3 linked regions of the Homo sapiens genome follow. The protein of the gene in region 2 purifies or fractionates together with the protein of the main gene of each other region. This does not show direct contact. Each region holds a gene or a part of one and is shown on either strand. Other genes may lie near its edges.

Region 1 (6,064 bases), on a different chromosome or scaffold from region 2:
ATGTATTGTCAGTAACATTACAGATTCCTGTTGATATGAGGCTCATTAGGAGGGAAGGCTCCCTGGCCTTTATAATAGGAAGTGTTTATTTTTCTTCCCTTTCAAGCAATTGGCTTGCTTTTTATCTTACAGACGTACTGAACGGTATGACTGATCAATACTTCTTGTCAGTACTGCATACCAAAGAAGCTTGGAATCAAGTTTAACACTAACTTTTACGTATTATTTACAACTTTATGAGATGACTGTTTTGTATTTGTCCATTCCAAATCATGTTAGTGTTGCCTTGATCACCATTACATGAAGGAGGGACTTTATGTGATAAAATATACATAGGTGTGCCAGAAGAAGGGAACTTAAAGTGGCTTAAAATCTCCATCTAAAATCTATAGGCAACATGGATACCCAACAAACTATGAGAAAGTAGTTGTATAATTAAAATGCATACAAGTAGGGGACTCACGAACCAATCAAATAAAATTTAAATATGATAACCTTAAAATGTCACCAGCTTCAATCATAACCTATTAGTTATTATATTAGTACTTTCTGATTTATCAGAGAAAATGAACAATGTTGAAATTTTATTTCTGAAATGTTTCTTTTAATCAATACATATTAAGTATATAATTTCCTTAAAAATTAACAAATAACTCTGATTTTCACTGTTAGGACACTGTTACAGAGAAGGAAACATATTGCTCTTCTAACTTTTCTTCTTTTTACATTTATCCACATTCCAAGTAGATTATCATAGTAAGGTTCTTCTGTGTTACTTTTGTCCAAGTTGTGACAACTAAAACAAAACACAAAATCATACATAAAACTTTTAAAAAAGATCATAAAAGAAACATTCAAACATATTTGTAAACCCCTTAATAAATTACACTTCCTATTTTATTCACTGCATTCCTAGAATAATAAATCTTAATGTTCACCACTAACTCAAATGTTAAAACTGAAGGCTGGTCATGGTGGCTCATGCCTGTAATCCTAGCTATTTGGGAGGCTGAGGTGGGAGGATCACTTGAGGCCAGGAGTTTGAGACCAGCCTTGGCAACATAGCAAGAGACTGTCTCTACCAAGAAAAAGAAAAGAAAATGGAATTGCAATAAACGTCGTCATAGTAAAGAAATGTAAACATTATTAGGTAACGTTCAATTGATGGAAAAGAAAAACCCTGGGAATTAAAAAAATTAGTGCTAACTTTGTGACAATATAAAGAGAAATGTCATGAGTGACACACTACTGACAGTTCTCATATATTTTTGTATTTCTAAAGGATCATTAAAAGCCAAAGAAAAGGCTTTCAGTTCTGGAAGGATGGGCAAACTCCTACTGGAAACATTATTACTTATCAAGGTTTTCTTAGTCGTCCATGAAAACACCTTATCTTGGTATAGCTGGATGGCTTTGGTTTCGGCTGGTTCAGGTGAGTAAGTGGTTTTCTTTCTCTCTTTTGAAAAATACCAATAGCAACTAGGGGTATGTTAACAGAAACAAACAACAAATGTATACTTTACCTGTTTTATGAACTGTGTAGCATTAAAAAGCTCACTGCAGCCATATAAAATGTGTTTGCCTTGTTTCCCCTGTAAAAATCAGAGTCAGAACTTAGATACAAGTAACAAGAAATATATTCAATATTCCCAAGAAAAGAGATTAATATGCTAGTTTTTTTGTTATTCTTAACAGTCTTTCTTTGGGATACTGTTGGATTTTAGTATACACATCTACCTAAAATTGCATGAAATAAAGAGGAATAAAGTGGTGAAATGAGCATAGTATTTTTGTCCCCCAAAATATATACTATGGCATACTATTGGTGCCATTTCCTATTACACTAAAAATAGAAGGAATCTCACTGTCAAATTTCACAGGAGCAACAGTTACCTATAAAATCTTAGAACAACATTCTTCCAATGTAGGATGTGTACTACTTGAAGAATACATTCGAGTTTCTTTATGCTGAAAGTGGGCTATGGTGCAGGTGGCATGGATTGTGCTTTTAGTCTCACTTGAGCAACACAGTATTTATAAGTTAATACATCTCATTCCACATTGTCAACATCAGGAATAAAAGTCACAGTTACAATGTTGGAACCCAATCACAACAGCCAAAACTTCTCTATTAGCGATTTGCTAATTTCTTGTATGTATCGTGAACCTGAAGGTAAATTCATGAGATTTCTTTTGTAATATAAAAAAGTTTATTCTAGAACAAAGTAATTTGAGGATTCATCAAAGGACAGAGGAATGATGGCTTTGTAACACAACTCTGTGATGTATAAGCTGAGCAAATATTGTTGGCTGAATACATGTCCTAGATGGCCATCTCTGAGAATAAATAAAACAAAAGCCACAACTCATATTTTTTTCAAAATGAGATGGTATATGGGTCATATAATTGGGATTCTTGTGGCTAACAGGCATTAATTAAAGGTAGAGGTCACAGTATGCAAGGAGAAAGCAGGCACAGGGAAACATTAGAGGGGTCCAGAACTTCTAGGCATAGCTCCCAGGAGAACCTGATTCTTGTTCAAGGAGAGGTCTTTTATGCCTCTCTGGTCAGGTAGGCAAAATTGGGCTGCATGACCAGCATGACCAGGCTCAACTGCAGAAACCAAGGGAACATGACAGAAACCAGGTGAAAAATGTAAAATCAATCTTTACATTTTCTATTAAACAATGCTGGCAAGCCAGCCCAAGGTTGCCCCCTGGTTTATCGTAGTCTCTAGCCCAGGCCCAGAATTCATCACTAGTTAATACTTCATTCAGGTTTGGCTAAACATCAGCACCATGGATCCTGGTATTCTTGGAGATAAGCACAGGGGTACAGTAGCCCAGTTGAGATTAATCCTGACTTGTACAGTCCCCACCCTGGACCAAGCTTTCTTAACCAAATTACTCATCATCATTCTTTTCTAATCGTTTTTAGCCATCCAATGAAGTGTAGGTGTAATTTTAAAGAAACACTGTAGTTTACCAAACATTCCAGTGCAAACTTGTTCTTAATCATGTACAAGCTTGATGACCCCTTTACTTACTCTGTCAGTTAAAAATTGAACTTTATGGGCTGGGCGCAGTGGCTCATGCCTGTAATCTCAGCACTTTGGGAGGCCGAGGCAAGTGGATCACAAGGTCAGGAGTTCGAGACCAGCCTGGCCAGCATGGTGAAACCCCATCTCTACTAAAAATACAAAAATTAGCCAGGTGTGGTGGCGCATGCCTGTAATCCCAGCTACCCAGGAGGCTAAGGCAGGAGAACTGATTGATTGAACTCGGGAGGCAGAGGTTGCAGTGAGCCAAGACTGCGCCACTGCACTCCAGCCTGGGTGAGAGAATGAGACTCTGTCTCAAAAAAAAAAAAAGAAAAAAAAATCGAACTTTATAAAATGTACCAGTATATTGATTCAATGTAAAATTAACTCAGTGTAGTTCTTTCTCTAACCAATCACCTTCCATCAAGAGAATACCTTGTGGTTTTAAGTCAAGTTCCCAATTCATCAATATTAGTATTATCAAATGTTTTGATAAAATCAGTCAAATTATTTTTTACCAATTATACCAAAGTTATACCAAATAGCATTTACATTGTGAGTTAGATTAACAACATTACTAAATAAATCAGAATTACAGCAGTATTTTCTGGCACTTGCCCCTTATGTTGTGGACTAGTATAAACCAAGGGCCATGTTAGTTAATTCTGTATTGCCAGTCTCATGTAGGCATAGTCGCATGTTTAGTTTCATACTACGAGACTGTACTGACACAGGTTTCTAATGATGTGAGGAAGGCTGTCATAGACCTAGCTCAGTTCCTTCTTAATAGGGCTGAATGGTAGGGAAAAGATTAGGATTATTCAGGACAAAAAAACTAAAAGGGATTTAAAAATCCTCTCAGGACAATAAACTGGGGAGCTTAGTAGCTACTAAAAATTTAATGGATCTAAAGGGCATCTATGAATAATGTAATAAAATATATAATGGTCAAAGACTAGATGCTTTGCCCGTATGATGAGAAAGAAGACAAGGATGTCTGCTCTTGCCTCTTCTATTCAACAATGTACTGAAGGTTCTAGCCAGGGCAGTTGCAGAAGATAGAAAAGAAGCAAAACTATCTCTATTAATAGATAACATGATCTTGTATATAGAAACTTCTAAAAATCCATTAAAAACAATTGGAACTAATAAACTCAGCAAGGCTGTGAAACGTAAGATCAACATAAAAATCGGTTGGATTTTTATGCACTTGGAATGAGGAATCCAAAAATGAACTTAAGAAAATGCCTTTTGTCTTTGACAAAATTCAACAGCCCTTCATGCTAAAAACTCTCAATGAATTAGGTATTGATGGGACGTATCTCAAAATAATAAGAGCTATTTATGACAAGCCCACAGCCAATATCATACTGAATGGGCAAAAACTGGAAGCATTCCCTTTGAAAACTGGCACAAGACAGGGATGCCCTCTCTCACCTCTCCTATTCAACATAGTGTTGGAAGTTCTGGCCAGGGCAATCAGGCAGGAGAAAGAAATACAGGGTATTCAATTAGGAAAAGAGGAAGTCAAATTGTCCCTGTTTGCAGATGACATGATTGTATATCTAGAAAACCCCATTATCTCAGCCCAAAATCTCCTTAAGCAGATAAGCAACTTCAGCAAAGTCTCAGGATACAAAAATCAATGTGCAAAAATCACAAGCATTCCCAAACATCAATAATAGACAAACAGAGAGCCAAATCATGAGTGAACTCCCATTCACAATTGCTTCAAAGAGAATAAAATACCTAGGAATCCAACTTACAAGGGATGTGAAGGACCTCTTCAAGGAGAACTACAAACCACTGCTCAACGAAGTAAAAGAGGACACAAACAAATGGAAGAACATTCCATGCCCATGGATAGGAAGAATCAATTATCCTGAAAATGGCCATACTGCCCAAGGTAATTTATAGATTCAATGCCATCCCCATCAAGCTACCAATGACTTTCTTCACAGAATTGGAAAAAACTACTTTAAAGTTCATATGGAACCAAAAAAGAGCCTGCATTGCCAAGTCAATCCTAAGCAAAAAGAACAAAGCTGGAGGCATCACACTACCTGACTTCAAACTATACTACAAGGCTACAGTAACCAAAACAGCATGGTACTGGTACCAAAACAGAGATATAGACCAGTGGAACAGAACAGAGCCCTCAGATATAATACCACACATCTACAACCATCTGATCTTTGACAAACCTGACAAAAACAAGAAATGGGGAATGGGTTCCCTATTTAATAAATGGTGCTGGGAAAACTGGCTAGCCATATGTAGAAAGCTGAAACTGGATCCCTTCCTTACACCCTATACAAAAATTAATTCAAGATGGATTAAAGACTTAAATGTTAGACCTAAAACCATAAAAACCCTAGAAGAAAACCTAGGCAATACCATTCAGGACATAGACATGGGCAAGGACTTCATGTCTAAAACACCAAAAGCAATGGCAACAAAAGCCAAAATTGACAAATGGGATCTAACTAAACTAAGGAGCTTCTGCACAGCAAAAGAAACTACCATCAGAGTGAACAGGCAACCTAAAGAATGGGAGAAAATTTTTGCAATCTACTCATCTGACAAAGGGCTAATATCCAGAATCTACAAAGAACTCAACTTTACAAGAAAAAAGCAACCCCATCAAAAAGTGGGCGAAGGATATGAACAGATACTTCTAAAAAGAAGACATTTATGCAGCCAACAGACACATGAAAAAGTGCTCATCATCACTGGCCATCAGAGAAATGCAAATCAAAACCACAATGAGATACATCTCACACCAGTTAGAATGGCAATCATTAAAAAGTCAGGGAACAACAGGTGCTGGAGAGGATGTGGAGAAATAGGAACACTTTTACACTGTTGGTGGGACTGTAAACTAGTTCAACCATTGGGGAAGACAGTGTGGCGATTCCTCAAGGATGTAGAACTAGAAATACCATTTGACCCAGCCATCCCATTACTGGGTATATACCCAAAGGATTATAAATCATGCTGCTATAAAGACACATGCACAGGTA
Region 2 (7,032 bases):
ACAACAGGCTGATTGCTTCTGCATCATTCTTTTAAACATTTAACTTTTATGCTCAATTTTACTAAATTTATATATACTCAAATGCATGTCTACCCATTAAATTACAAATGGAGAGTAACGACTTTTCAGATTATTTGGGGGAGGAACTTATATTATTCGAACAACTCCAAATAATAATGAATATGTCACTCTGCAATGGGAATTTGATTAGTTAACTCATTTGAAGTGTGGGACTAGTGAGGATGATGGGATTGGAAAGAGACCTGGGCCTTGGGTTCAAATCTCGCTTCTGCTACTTAGAAATGGGTGAACTTGGGCAAGTCTGACTCTCGTTTTCCATTTCTATAAAGTGGACGTGATAATACCCTACTTAACTCACAAGCTAAGTAGGGTAGCTTCTGAGTTACCCTACTCACATAGTCTATATGTATGTATTTTAAAAAAACAGACTGATTATTATTGTTCCCCCAAACTACCTCCCCCCTCCTCATGTAGGCCATTTAGACATATTTTCTTTAGTGGCACCAAGCTGTATTTTCCAAACCACTTAGTTTTCTTGCACTTTCATTCCTTAATTTAGTTAAGTGCGTGAGGAATGAGTGAAAATCCTGAGCAGGTACTGATGAATCAGCGGTGGTGCAGAAGTACTGTCTGCATTCGTAAAAGATGGTAACATTTCTTTGCCAAGGTGAAACTCTTTCAGTGATGGCAGATGTGTGGCAGGTATGCAGCTTTTACTTTCTTTTCTTCCTTGTGATCATGGAAGCCAGTGCTAATTTCTTAGTGGATCCCTATAGCTCAGAATCCTTTGCAACATTGTACCCCAGGAGCCGTTACCTGTTATTAGGCTTGACATTCAAGTTGAAATCTACTTGACATATAGTAACAGTAGAATCTGTATGCTTAAAGCAGACCCATGTTTGTTTGTTTGTGGTTTTTTTTTTTTTCACTCAAAAGGACCTTGTGTTCATTTTGTTAATAGATAAGAAAACTAACACCCAAATAAATGAAATTACTTGCCCAAAGTCGTAGCAGTTGAGGTCATAGCACAGAGCCATAAGTAGAAGCCAGGTCCTTTGACCTGGTTTAATGCTGCTCTCCCTCTGCCCACTACATTCTCCTGTAATTTTTAAACCAGAATTTGTTTGGTTTCTGAATGGCAGTGAGTTTCTTCTTCTTGAGTTAATTCTGAATACTGCATACTGAATGGAACCTGGGGCAGAAAGACTTGGATTTGAATGTGTCTTATCTGTTATATGAACTTGGGGAAGCCACTTAATTTCAGTTACCTTATGGCTAAAATAGAGTGAGTAATAGCAACCTTATAAAGTTGTTAGGTGAAATAAGAAAAGGTATGCAGGTGCCTACATGAGTCCGAGTTCTTTTGTTTGCAAGTAATAGTAACCTAATGTAAATTAACCTGAACAAAGTGGGAATACCTTAGCTCATATAACTGGAAAATTCAGGGATAGAGCTTCTTTCTCTAGCTCTTATCCATAAAGCCCAGGAAGGAAATCTAGTTGGTTCTGCTTGATCCTCTGCTCTCTCTTACAGTAGTCATTATAGCCAGAGGAATGTTTCTTTAATTGGTCAGGTCTATGTCCACCTCAATCTGTGGTTAATAGGTGGCTTGGATGCTATGTAGCCCCCACCAGAATCATGGAAAAGGCAGTGCCCTGTCTGGGAATAGGGAGTAAGGAATGTTGGGCAAGCAAAAGCAACAAAAACATCCCTCACAGTGCCTGGGACAGTGCCTGATGTGCCTTCACCTTGCCTGCCTGGCTGTCTTCAACTCTGTGGGGAATGAGAAACTAGAAAATGCAGGAGTTTATAATGACAGGTTCTGGGGTGAGGATAGGCCTAGAGATGCCTCATAGTGGCAGCTCTTCTATTCTCTTACTGACTTATAAAGGTTACAGGAGCCAGGGGGGGCTACCACACAGGTAAGCAAGAAACCCGTAAGCACCGAACTGCTGTGCAGAGGCAGCAGGGGCTACTGAAGAGCACCGCACAGGAAAGCAGGAACCCATGTTCTAGCCGCAGGTCTGCCAGTAAGTGGGCTGCTCATGTGATTTCTCTGGGCCTCAGTTTCCACATTAGTAAAACTGAAAGCTTCGATTAGATAACTGCAGAGATTTCTTGTAGAATAAGGACACTTTGATTCTAAATAAGGTAATAATGATCCTGAATTGCTGGGAACTCTATTTTCAGATTAGGCATGCAGATGAGATTTTGTTCTTGATAATACATTCTTTTGTGGAAGCTAAACTTCGTTTTTTATTTACTTATTTTTAGGAATTGATTATCTTGAATCTTTGGCTGAAATTCAGAGTTCTTGGAGTGGCCCAAAGCCAGATGATCTGGCCCTGCTCCCTCTCTGGCCTCACCTCCTCTCCCCCTCCTTTTGCTCACTCTACTCCAGCTATTCTGGCCTCTTTCATTTTCTCACATGCATCAGGCACATTTCCCGCTTAGAACCTTTGCATCCCTCTACCTGGAACACTTTTCTCCTAGATTCCATATGGCTTGATCTCTCAGTTCCTCAGGTCTCTGGTTAAATGTTGCCTCCGTGAGGCCTTCCTTGAATGCCCTGCGTAAAGTGGCCTCCTTTTTCTGTCCCTTCCCCTAGCAGATCATATATCCATTTATTTGTTGTTTGTCTACTCGAATATATGTTTTCTGAAAATGAAGAACTTTGTGTTGTTAGCACTGAATCTGTAGCTTCTAGAACAGTGTGGGGATGCAGGTGCTTAATAAATACTTCTTGAATTAATGAATAACTGTTAATCTACTGTCTCTCTCAGTTTTGGGGCTAGGTGATCTCTGTCCAAGGCTCATTGCAGTTCTAAAGCTCTGTGATACTCACATGATTCTTGAATATTACATGATGCACATTTATACTTAGTCCGGTATTAAGAGTAAACATTCAGTAAATAGTAGCTTTTATTACTAAGATTCCGTTCCTCCCTCAACACATTTACATTCTAGTGGAAAAGCAGACACAGGTAGCACAACAACTCAGGTATGAGTAACAACTGTAACTTTTTTAGCATTGATTCCCCAGGTCCTCCTTGATTTCCTTTTCAGAGGCAGTGTTGACTTTCTGTGCCAGTGTTGGGACCCAAAGGTTGAGCTGGGACCACCTGGATTATAAATTTTACCTAAGGGTTGAGTATAATCATAGTTAGGGGATTTCAGTTGAGGGAGCATGATTCAAAGAAGCAGTATCATGCAACAGGTACAGTGAGTCCATGAGAGGCAGGAAGGACAGGAGATAGGGCCAAACCATACAGAAGTAGGATTGGGAAACAATGGAGGTTTAGAATGCAAGCTGTGAACAGAGCATGAGTGTGCTGAATCATATAGATTTCTTTTTAAATATGGCAGGAACCTTTTAGCTAATGAAATAAGGAGCAGCTTTGGTAAAAGCTGGAGTGAGAGGTTTGGGGAGAGAGGTTCATTCGCCAGCCTACTACCCTTCTGTTACCTTCCCCCTCTCCTTGAGGAACCCCTAGGAACCAACCAGAGGGCCCAGAGACACACAGTTTAAAAACCACTGCTTTAATGCTCTCCAGGGCCTGTTTTAGCTTCATGATGCTGTGTTTTTATGGATTGCAATAACTGAGTGTGTACTATAAGGAGAGCTCAGCACTGCAGAGTTTTCATGAGATTGTGAGTCCTTTGTGTGGATTACACTTCTGAATTTTGCCCAAGACTTAGGAGGACTGTAAGTTTTGAAATGTATTTATTCAATAATTGATTTATACCATCATCCAATAAACACTGAACATCTGGTGTGTCAGGCATTGTGGGGCCATAAAAAAACTATGAGGCATATTAACCTGTTCTTTGAAAAGATAGATAAAGGATACCTAAATCTCTTTAGGGGAGAATCAGTGGAAACCTCAAAGTGATCATCAAACTTGGCTTTTAAGGAGAAAAACCATTCCACCAGACGTAGGTAGAAGGGATGGGTGTGAGCAAAGGCAGTGGCACACAACAGTAGGGCAGTTTGGGGCCAGAGGCAAGACTGGTGTGACTAGAGCCCTTTTCTGGAGGAGGCCCGGGTGAGGGTCAGAGTGTCAGGGGGTGAGGTTGTACTGAAGTAGGTTAGAGCAGGGGTCCACAAACTGGCCCACAGGCCAAATCCGGCCCACTGCCTAGTTGTGTAAATAAAGTTTTATTGGAATATGTCATTTTCATTTGTTTAAATATAGGCCAAGAATGCTTTCATGCTGTAGCAGCAGAGCGATAGCCTGCAGAGGCCTGCAAAACTTAAAATATTTACTGTATGACCCTTTAGAGAAAAAGTTTGCCAACTCTTAGATGAGAGCGTTGTTAGCAGTGCTGAGGAGTTTGTACTTTATGCTCTGGGCTATGCGGCAGAGGCACGAAAGGATCATGTTTGTATTTTAAACTAATCCGCAGTGTTGATGATGGGTTTGGAATGTAACAAGACTGACATGGAGAGCTAAGCAGGATGCTGTTGCAGTAATTCAGGTGAAACTGAGGAGCCGGTGACAGTAGGGTTGGATGGGAGAAAAATAGATGAAGTAGGTATTTAGTATTTAGTAGGTAGGCTCAACAAACTTAGTAAAACTTAGTAACTAATTAGTGGAAATAGAAAGAGGAGGAGGTAGAATAATTTCCAGCTTTCTGGTTGAAAAGTTAAATGGTAGAAGATTACAATAACAGAGTTTTCAGGGTTAGAGTTGAGTGCCAGTTATTCATGCCTTCTTCTTAATTCTAAATAGTAGAGAATAGATCCAAGGAGCCCATGGACACTGGAGTTTTATTAAGACAGCATGTGGTGGATAACTCCCCAGCAGCAGTGCTTACTGATAAACCTGGATTGAGGAACTCAATGGGGTCCTTCAGCTTTGCCACATTTAGACCTTGGAGACAGTTGAGTACAAAATAGATACCCAGTGCCTATGTACCTATGCCCAGCCAGTTGCATGGAGATTGAGACCTGTCTCAGCAATACGGCCATCACTAGGCTGGGACTTATGGTGGCGAGAAGTACAAGGAGGTAGAAACTTAGGATGGCCCGTGTGGATGCCAGGTTCTCTCCTGTTATTCTCAGTTCTGCTTTCTTTATTCTTGAATGAAACTCATCTTGGGGTTAATGATTATATCACATGTTGTAGAAGCATGATTCTCAGGGATAGTTGATTCATTTTCTCCTGCATTCCATGAAGAATCTGGAGTGTGTCAAAGAGTTCCCTCTTTCCTCACTTTTGAGTTGGCAGTTGACCAATTATTATGTGTCTCACCTACTAGGGTAGGGCTGCAGAAACACGTCTTCTCAGTGTGACGTTTTTAGTGAATTCTTCCCATCAGGGGCTGGCTTCATTTTGGAGGCCCAAGAACCAGATTTTTCTACATATTGAGGCTAGAGCCATCTGTTAGGGCAGATATCAGCCAAGCTCACGTCAACTTGTGTGTAAGTCAGAATACCAGTTAATTTGTTGTAAGCACTGTAACTAATGTGCAGAAGAATACAGATTTTGGAAACTCAGTCATTTTTGAGCTTCTGCTATAGGTCAGGAACTCGGTTAAGGACTTTATGTGCCCGATCTCATTTAATTTTTCTCTTTTTCAGGGGATAGAAATATATTATTGAGTGATTTTATAATATTGATTGTATTATGAATAATGTGGTTGTTGAATTCATGTAAACTTGATGTTTGACGTCTCTTACTACATGGAAATCCACATGGACTCCCTCTGGTGGGTAAAGTATCAGTGAAGTCTACACATGTTAATTATGGCTTATGGTATGAAAACCATTTTATGTTTAAAGCGTATTACATTTAATATTGACTTAAAAAGAGGCAACTTCAAAACTCCTCTAAAAGAAAGTGAATAAACCAGAGGAATGAAAGTATGATATATTGAATGAACCCAATAACTCAGATATGGAAAGCTTGCAGCACAGTTGAAATTTTAAACCCGGCAATACTTTTTTCTTTGTTACAGACTTTCAGATCCTCAAAGACTATGAATACTAAAGTTTGCCAGCTTCTACTTATCACCATCTAACATATGTCTGTTTGTCAAAATGTTCTTACCATGGAATTTGTAAGCTGTATTTAACCAAGAGAGAGACACTTCCATTTCACAATATTGTAACATTTCTATCTAATTTGTAGTCAAATGATAAGAAAACTCTGGTGAAATGAACACTTGCCTTTTCTTGGACATTTTCTCCAGCAGTGAATTCTATAGTCTTAGCAGAAGTAACAGGCTACAGCATATCTTAACTCAGAGGAATTGAGAAAGGAATTAAAAAGTGTACGTTTCGAATTGTAAATACTTTTGGCCTTTGCCAATAGCTTACTATGTGATCTTGGAGAACTCACCTAACCTCTCTGGGTGTCACTCTTCTGATTTTTTTAATGAGAGGTTTTGACTAGATAATCCATAAGGACCTTTTCAATGAGATGGTTGCATGACTCAGTACTCTTTATCTGAAAGTCCCAGGATGTATTTTTAAATACTTTTTGCAGTGATAACTGCCCATTACCTTGTGATATTTTCCCTGAGTCTCTGAAAGAGTGAGGTTTTTTTTTTGTTTTGGTTTGTTGTTGTTGTTGTTGTTTTCAAAGTTAGCATTTTTGGTGTGTTTTCACAAATGTATTTGATTTAAAAGTGGTGATATAATTTTATAATGGAATTTTATTAGCAGGGCACATTTTTGAAGTTGACTATTTTAAAATCTGATTATAAAATTAGTAAGTGCTCATTAAACAGAATAAAGAAGAAAATAGTTCACATTTAGTACCAGTGTCAGGAAATAGCCATAGTTAAAATTCTGGTGTTTAACTTTCCAAACATTTTTTCTGTTAAATAAAATCAAGATTCTTCTACAATACGGTTATGTAATCCCTCTCCATATGCCCTCCCCTCTTCCTTGGGGGAGTAGAGAGGGGTTACATAACAGTATTGTAGAAAACAATGTATTTTGGAAATTTTTAAATATCAGTATGTATTGCTCTTACCACCAGTTTATTTGGCTGCATAGCTATT
Region 3 (7,032 bases), on a different chromosome or scaffold from region 2:
AAAATGAACCATTTTAAAGCAAAATATTTAAGACAGTAAAAAAAAAAAAAAGCAGTTTTTAAAAATTATTTTAATAGTCATGATAATCCTTGTTAATAAATATTTAATATCTATTCTAACTTTTAAGAAACATTGGAAACCATTGCGCATTTGAAATTTTCATTCTTTAAATATTTTGGAAACTCTTACCTTGACATTTCCCAATAATGGATGTAAAATCATCTTTTGCAGACCTGTAAAACATGCAAAATCAAGGCAAAAGTTTTATCGTAACACTGTATAGAACCATAAAATACCAGATACTGTGGACTAGACAGCCTCTATATACAATGCTCAATCATATCTCCTCTCAGACATGGTTTTGTGGCTCAATTATGACCCTTTTGTCAGTGACAATATTTTCTTCCAACCTTATTGCATCAGATACGGAGCTACATCGTTATGGAGACATATATATGGAATATAGTGACACAGCCTAAGTGAATTTACCGTGGTCTTTTCATACAATAGAGATGTCTGGTCCCCATCCCCAAAGGTTCTGAATCAAGAAATGTGGGATGGGGCCCAAGCAAAAATATTTTTTTGCTGGATACATCATTCCTAATTAAGAACCACTGGTCTGTATCATATTACAAAGTTTGATCACTTAGGGGAAAAAGTCTTATTTTGAGAAATCAAACAGCCTTAATAGGTCACCATATTTAAATCAACAACCTATTTTAAATCTGTGATCCTGAAATATATACCAAGTAGAATAATTATTATAAAATATGTTTAAAAATGAAAACTGGTAAACCTTCTAGAAAATAATTTAATAACAATTATCCAAAACCTTCATGTCTGTAGCATTTGACCTAACAATTCTATTTCTATAAAGTTATCCCCAGGAAATAATTACAGATACATACAGATATCAAAAAAACTGGTATGGTCTCATTTATAAAGGAGAAAAATAATACCCAGTATAAAGAGATTAAACTTTGCTATGTGCACCCAATGAAATATTATGGAATTACTATAGTCGACCCTTGAACAACACAGGTTTCAACTATGCAGGTCCATGTCTATGTGGATTTTCTTCTACCTCTACCACTCTGAGATGGCAAGACCACCTTCTCTTCCTCCTCCTCCTCCTCAGCCCACTCCATGTGAAGATGACGATAATGAAGACCTTTGTAATGGTCCACTTCCACTTAATGAACAGTAAATATATTCCTCTTCCATATGATTTTCCTAATAACATTTCCCAAAGAATGAACTCATTTTTCTCAGTTGCTATTGTTGCTATTTCTTTCATAACTGATATACTGTTTAAAAATAAAACACCTGAAAAGTCCAGCTTAGAGATGTCTTTTAGATGTGTATATAATACCACTGAATGTCTCAAGAGGACAGACAGCATAATTGGTCTCAAGTAATACGTAACCTAGGTCATTTGCACACTCATATTCCATCTACAGTTTTGTACCAACAGAGAAAAAGCATACCTATTTTTTTTTTTTTTTTTTGAGACAGAGTCTCGCTCTGTCGCCAGGCTGGAGTGCAGTGGCACAATCTCGGCTCACTGCAACTAGTTCTCAGCTCACTGCCTCCCAGGTTCAAGCAGTTCTCCTGCCTCAGCCTCCCGAATAGCTGGGATTACAGGTGTGCGCCACCATGCCCAGCTAATTTTTGTATTTTCAGTAGAGACGGGGTTTCACCACGTTGGCCAGGATGGTCTCAATCTCTTGACCTTGTGATCTGCCCGCCTCGGCCTCCCAAAGTGCTGAACCATCCCTACTCTTTTACACCTTCCTGAGTTTCTGTTTAGCTAATATAGCAGTAAATAGTCACACAACAGTGATTTCCAGAGTTCTGGAGGATAGGCCTCATTTACTGAGAAAGTAAAACTTCTTAAGAGGCAACGGAATGATCTGGGGAAGGAGAAAGATAAGCATATAACTCTGAGAAAGCATCCTTAATTTTTTAACTGGCGTAAGTTGGTGTTTGACACTCACAAAATTAAGTGAGTTAATAATAAAATCCTTTTAAATATATCCCCTATAAAAATCTTAGTTTCCATTTATAGAGTAACAAATATTTCTCAAAGGAAATCTTGAATATGAATAATATTAACAATTACCTGATTTCCACACACTGATCTTGAACAGCAGCCAAAAGCTTTCCATTGCTTTTATGGAGAAGAAAGAGGGGGAAGAAAATCTATTATGAATATCTATAGCAGTTTTCAGCACAGATGGAATTATTTAATAAGTTAAAAATCATTTTTAAATTTGTTCACATGCTTTAATTATCCATCTTTTGACCTTACAATTAGATGAGGATACAGGTACAAAAGCACACAAAATGATTTAATACAGCATGAATTAACATGTTTAAGCTCTCTCTCCCCCACTCTCCCCATCTCTCTCCCTCTCTCCCCCTCGCTCCCTCCCACTCTCTCTCCCTCTCCTTCTCTTTACCTCCCTCCCTCTTTCTCTCTCTCCCTCCCTCCCTCTCTCCCTCCCTCCCTCTCTCCCTCTCTCTCTCCCTCTCTCCCTCTTCCTCTCTCCCTCCCTCCCTCTCTCCCTCTCTCTCTCCCTCTCTCTCTTTCCCTCTCTCTCTAAAAAGTTTAAACAATACTAAATATTTGCAACAAAGAAATTTACACACAATAAAAATCAAGACTGAAAGCCACAAGCATTCCAAAATTAACGTCCATAATGAAATGTAAAAGCTAATCCAGACAGAAAAACATTGAATTTCACACTTCCTTACCTTGCAAGTACCAAATGCCAGTTTATCTGTTTATTAACCAAGCGAACCAGTCCATCAGGGAGCAAAAAAGGTGCCGGGCTGAAATCACAACACATTAGTTAGCTTAAAATCTAATCATGAAAACCACATATATGCAGACAAATAGCACATATACTTATAGAGAGAGACACAGATTTTTTTCCATTAGAATATAAAATTTGAATATTAGCAAACCCAAAACCCAAAGTTACTATTTGGTAGCTGAAATTTGACCATATATATTTCTCTATTTCCAAAAAACACAGTGATGTGTTCAAAGGTATAAATGTTATGTACTTCCCAGGTAACAGACATCTAGCATACCAATCACAGAGCAGAGTACACTTATACCAACCCTTTCTGCTCTAACTACCTAGGAACTCTGGCTCAACTGTAACAAAAACAAATTCTAGCATAGAGTTAAACTCACAAGAAAGAAAGATAAATTTCCAAGTACTAGAAATGAAAAAGTCACTGAAAGCTAGAATTGGGCACAGGGTAAAGAGAGAGATAAGAACTCAAAACAGGACTTAGCACACGAGATAGGAAATGAGCTACTGAACCAAAGAGAGGACAGGAGTTGGAAGTGAGACTCCTGCAAAGGCCAGGATGCTCAAATGACTGCACCAGGTCATTGAAAGAACTAGAAACACCTCACCATAGGCCCAGGGAGACTAAAGACTCTCTTCTCTCCCTGGAACTATGGTTCTGTGGAGGATAAGAATAAAATCTCCTATGAAAAAGTAAAAGTCCAAGTCTGTACTATATGTAAGATCAGATTACAATTTCACTTTACTCATGTGATGCAAGAATCTGCAAGCATAAGTTCAAAATAAAACCATTCACAAAAGACACGAAACTACTCATCATAAGTGAGTAAGCAGACACAGCAAATTAGAGGATTAATACCCGAAGAAATCAAGAAAACAGATGGAAAAGAAGAATAAAGAACATAATTTCATGAAATAGAAAAAAAATAAATTATGGAAATCAGAAAACACAAAATAGGATTCCAAAATGTTAGTGGCCAGGCACAATGGTATGTGCCTATAGTCGCAGCTACACGGGAGGCTAAGGCAGGAGGATTGCTTGAGCACAGGAGTTTAAAGCTACAGTGTACCATGATCTTGCCTGTGAATAGCCACTATACTCCAGCCTGACCAACACAATAAGACCCTCTCTTAAAAAAAAAAAAAAAATTAGTAATATACATGTAGTACATTTACGCTCATTTTTTAAAACACAAAATAATATCAAAAGACAGTTACAAAAATATAATGAAGATACAAAACATGTATGTGAATACTACCTATATGAGGATGATAATTTCCTCTAGAAGGGAAGGGAAAAGAAAAAGGGAAAGGACTTGAGATGTAACATTTTGCATAAAAACAAAAAGAGCTAGCTGATACAGGTTTATTATATTGTCAATAATTCTCAGTATGTTTATATTTCATAATTAAAAGAACTTTTTTAAAAAAAGAAGAAAAAGTCACTTGAAACAAATACTGACCCCAAAACCTTTGGGTTTAATTACCATAAACTCAAGAGCACAAATTGAACTATAATCTTTTTGAAAGCAGCATATCATGAGACAGATGAATCACTTAATGGTGCATTTGCAACCTGTACAATGATTCAAGGAAAAAGGCTTCTCAGGAGGAAGGGAGACAAAAAGATACCTACTTCTGATGCCTGATCATAAGGTTCTCACACAGAGGACAGGGCTTGTAGCAGAGTTAACTTTTTGAGTCTTCCTTCTCAATAAATAAAAAAAAGAATTATCAAGCAGCAACCTGAACAAGACAAGCTTGACACCTCATCCAAGGGTGTTCAGGACTAACAAGCTGTCGCCTAGAGAAGTCAGAAAACACAGCCCACCTCCCACACTCCTATCCTCTCCTTCCACTCTCTCTTCCTACTCATTGCTCTATCCTATCATATCCCACACCCACAAAAAAAGTGACACAATTAAGTATAGAAATTGTAAATATGCATACATATATACATGTATGCACATACACACACACATACATAGAGTAAAAGCAGAAAGACGTTGGAGCAAGTCCTAGAGAACGCCAAAGGTCTCTTTTATGGAACTATATTATCTCTGGAACTTTACGACAAGATATCCTCAACGAAGAAGCAATCTATGTAAATAATTCTATAAAACAATTCCTACACATGTATCTAAAAGCAGAATTATAACTTTTTTGTCATAATAATAATTTCTTTGTTCTTTCTAAAGCTGGAAATTAGCATCATCCCTGCAAATATACTTAACACTCAAGGAATTAAAAAATATACAAGAACTGAAACCTAAAGAACCTTCTCTGATATACAGCAGTTGAATATTAACCACAAGTGAGATGACATGACAAGAACAAAAATGTATTTTAAAAGATATGCAGGCTACAGATGCTTCATATGGACATTCAAGATAAGCCTGAGAATAGTCATCAGAGGAAGCAGAAATTGTCATGAGACATTCTTAATAGTAACTAAGGGAACAAAAACTACCCTAAGTCTACTGAGATATCTTGTCAGATTCTACCTAAATGTTTGAAATGTCTCATACTGAGTTTGCCTGAATGTCAGCAACTTTATCATGATCTAGAATTCAATTATGAAAACAAATCATATATAGAACAATATTGTTTATATTTGATGTTCATACTGTTTCTCTGAAGAACCGAAGACTCACCTGTACCAGATGTATTGGCGTAAAAATAATAAACGATCTGTAATCAAAAGAAATGGCAAAGCCAAATATAAATCAGCTGTTAAGAATCATTTTCAAATTAGATTTATAGATGAGAAATCTAAAATATACTACAGAGCGAGTCATTAAAAAAAATAAAGAACTCAAGTCTTAAAATGAGAGACTAAATATAACCTAATATACACTGTAACATTTACAGGGTCATATACTTATTAAATTCCATGTTTGTGTGTTATTCAAAAGTTTCAAGTATTTCCTAACTGTTCAAGAAATAAAAGCAGTTTGAGATGTTAAATTTAATCTAAGAAGCTTTCATGAAACCATGGACTAGAAGTTATAATAATCACCCCTTAGAAACCAAAATATTTGTATAAAAAATTAAAGCAAGATATATTTTACACTTTATAGCAAAGATTTTTAAAACAGTAATACCTAAAATGGGAAAGCCCACGGAAAACAAAACCTCTAACACGCTATAAAAAACAATGCTTTCTATCATCCTAAATGTACATGTATGTGTGTACCTGTGTATGCAGTTAGGTATATATCAATGGAAAAATATCTAAAGAATAACAGATTCTCTCTAGGTGGTATGAGGACAAATTTTTTTCTAATTTGTAGTTATCTATAGTGTCTGTATTTTCTACAATGAATTTTTATTATTTGTACACATTTTCTAAATTCTCAAAATTTAAAAGCATTTGTCATTATGAAAACTGAATATGCTAGTGCTTCTTGTATCAGAAGATAAAATTAACTATAATTAACTGTAATTTTATCAGAAGATAAAAGGATAATCAGAAGATTACAGTTAATTTCAAGTACTTAACTTCTGTGAAAATGAATTTTCTCTTTATAAGGAACTTAAATTCACTGGTATAAGGATGGACTTTGAAGCCAGAAAGACATGCAGTCAAATTCCAAATGAATGACCTTGAGCAAGTTTTCTTATCTAAAATCATAAAGGAGTAACGGCACCTTTCTGGTCTGATAAAAGGACTCTATTAATGAATATGGTAAACCCGTCATGGCACCAGCTCAGTAAACCTAGTGCTCAATCCTTTCTCAGACTCTTGTTAGTTCATACGTAAAATTTGTCAGGAGTTAAATGAATACCCTGGCTTATCAAATCTGTAATTTGAGTATCTCTGACCAGATCTATCTGAAACACCACATAGACCTCTTAAAATAGTCTCTCAGTGTATTTTCACCTTCAACATCCACTGACTTTCTGAGACTCATACTGGCTTTGACCTTCATTCCTTCTAGAACAGCGTCCCCCAACCTTTTTGGCACCAGGGACTGGTTTTGTGGAAGACAATTTTTCCATGCAACCTAGATCCCTCACACGTGCAGTTCACAATAGGGTTTGCACTTCCCTGATAATCTAATGCTGCCGCTTATCTGACAGGAAGTGGAGCTCAGGTGGTAATGCTCACTCACCCATCGCTCACCTCCTGCTATGCAGCCTGTTTCCTAACAGACCACAGACTGGTACCAGTCCATGGCCCAGGAATTGAGGACACCTGTTCTAG

The links. Proteins that work in one complex are often made in the same cells at the same time.
Region 1: the proteins of STX18 (region 2) and SCFD1 purify together in Homo sapiens (affinity purification with mass spectrometry; 7 studies listed by BioGRID and IntAct, with this or other methods). This does not show direct contact.
Region 3: the proteins of STX18 (region 2) and NBAS purify together in Homo sapiens (co-immunoprecipitation; 7 studies listed by BioGRID and IntAct, with this or other methods). This does not show direct contact.

Annotation. Positions count from the first base shown.
Region 1 is NC_000014.9:30,730,318-30,736,381, reverse strand, and holds the end of SCFD1 (sec1 family domain-containing protein 1), read right to left. Parts: intron 1,593-6,064; coding exon 1,524-1,592; intron 797-1,523; coding exon 773-796; 3' UTR 532-772; downstream 1-531. UniProt on the Homo sapiens protein: Plays a role in SNARE-pin assembly and Golgi-to-ER retrograde transport via its interaction with COG4. Involved in vesicular transport between the endoplasmic reticulum and the Golgi.
Region 2 is NC_000004.12:4,532,018-4,539,049, reverse strand, and holds part of STX18 (syntaxin-18), read left to right. Parts: intron 1-7,032. UniProt on the Homo sapiens protein: Syntaxin that may be involved in targeting and fusion of Golgi-derived retrograde transport vesicles with the ER.
Region 3 is NC_000002.12:15,551,304-15,558,335, forward strand, and holds part of NBAS (NBAS subunit of NRZ tethering complex), read right to left. Parts: intron 5,517-7,032; coding exon 5,480-5,516; intron 2,836-5,479; coding exon 2,758-2,835; intron 2,171-2,757; coding exon 2,123-2,170; intron 234-2,122; coding exon 190-233; intron 1-189. UniProt on the Homo sapiens protein: Involved in Golgi-to-endoplasmic reticulum (ER) retrograde transport; the function is proposed to depend on its association in the NRZ complex which is believed to play a role in SNARE assembly at the ER. Required for normal embryonic development.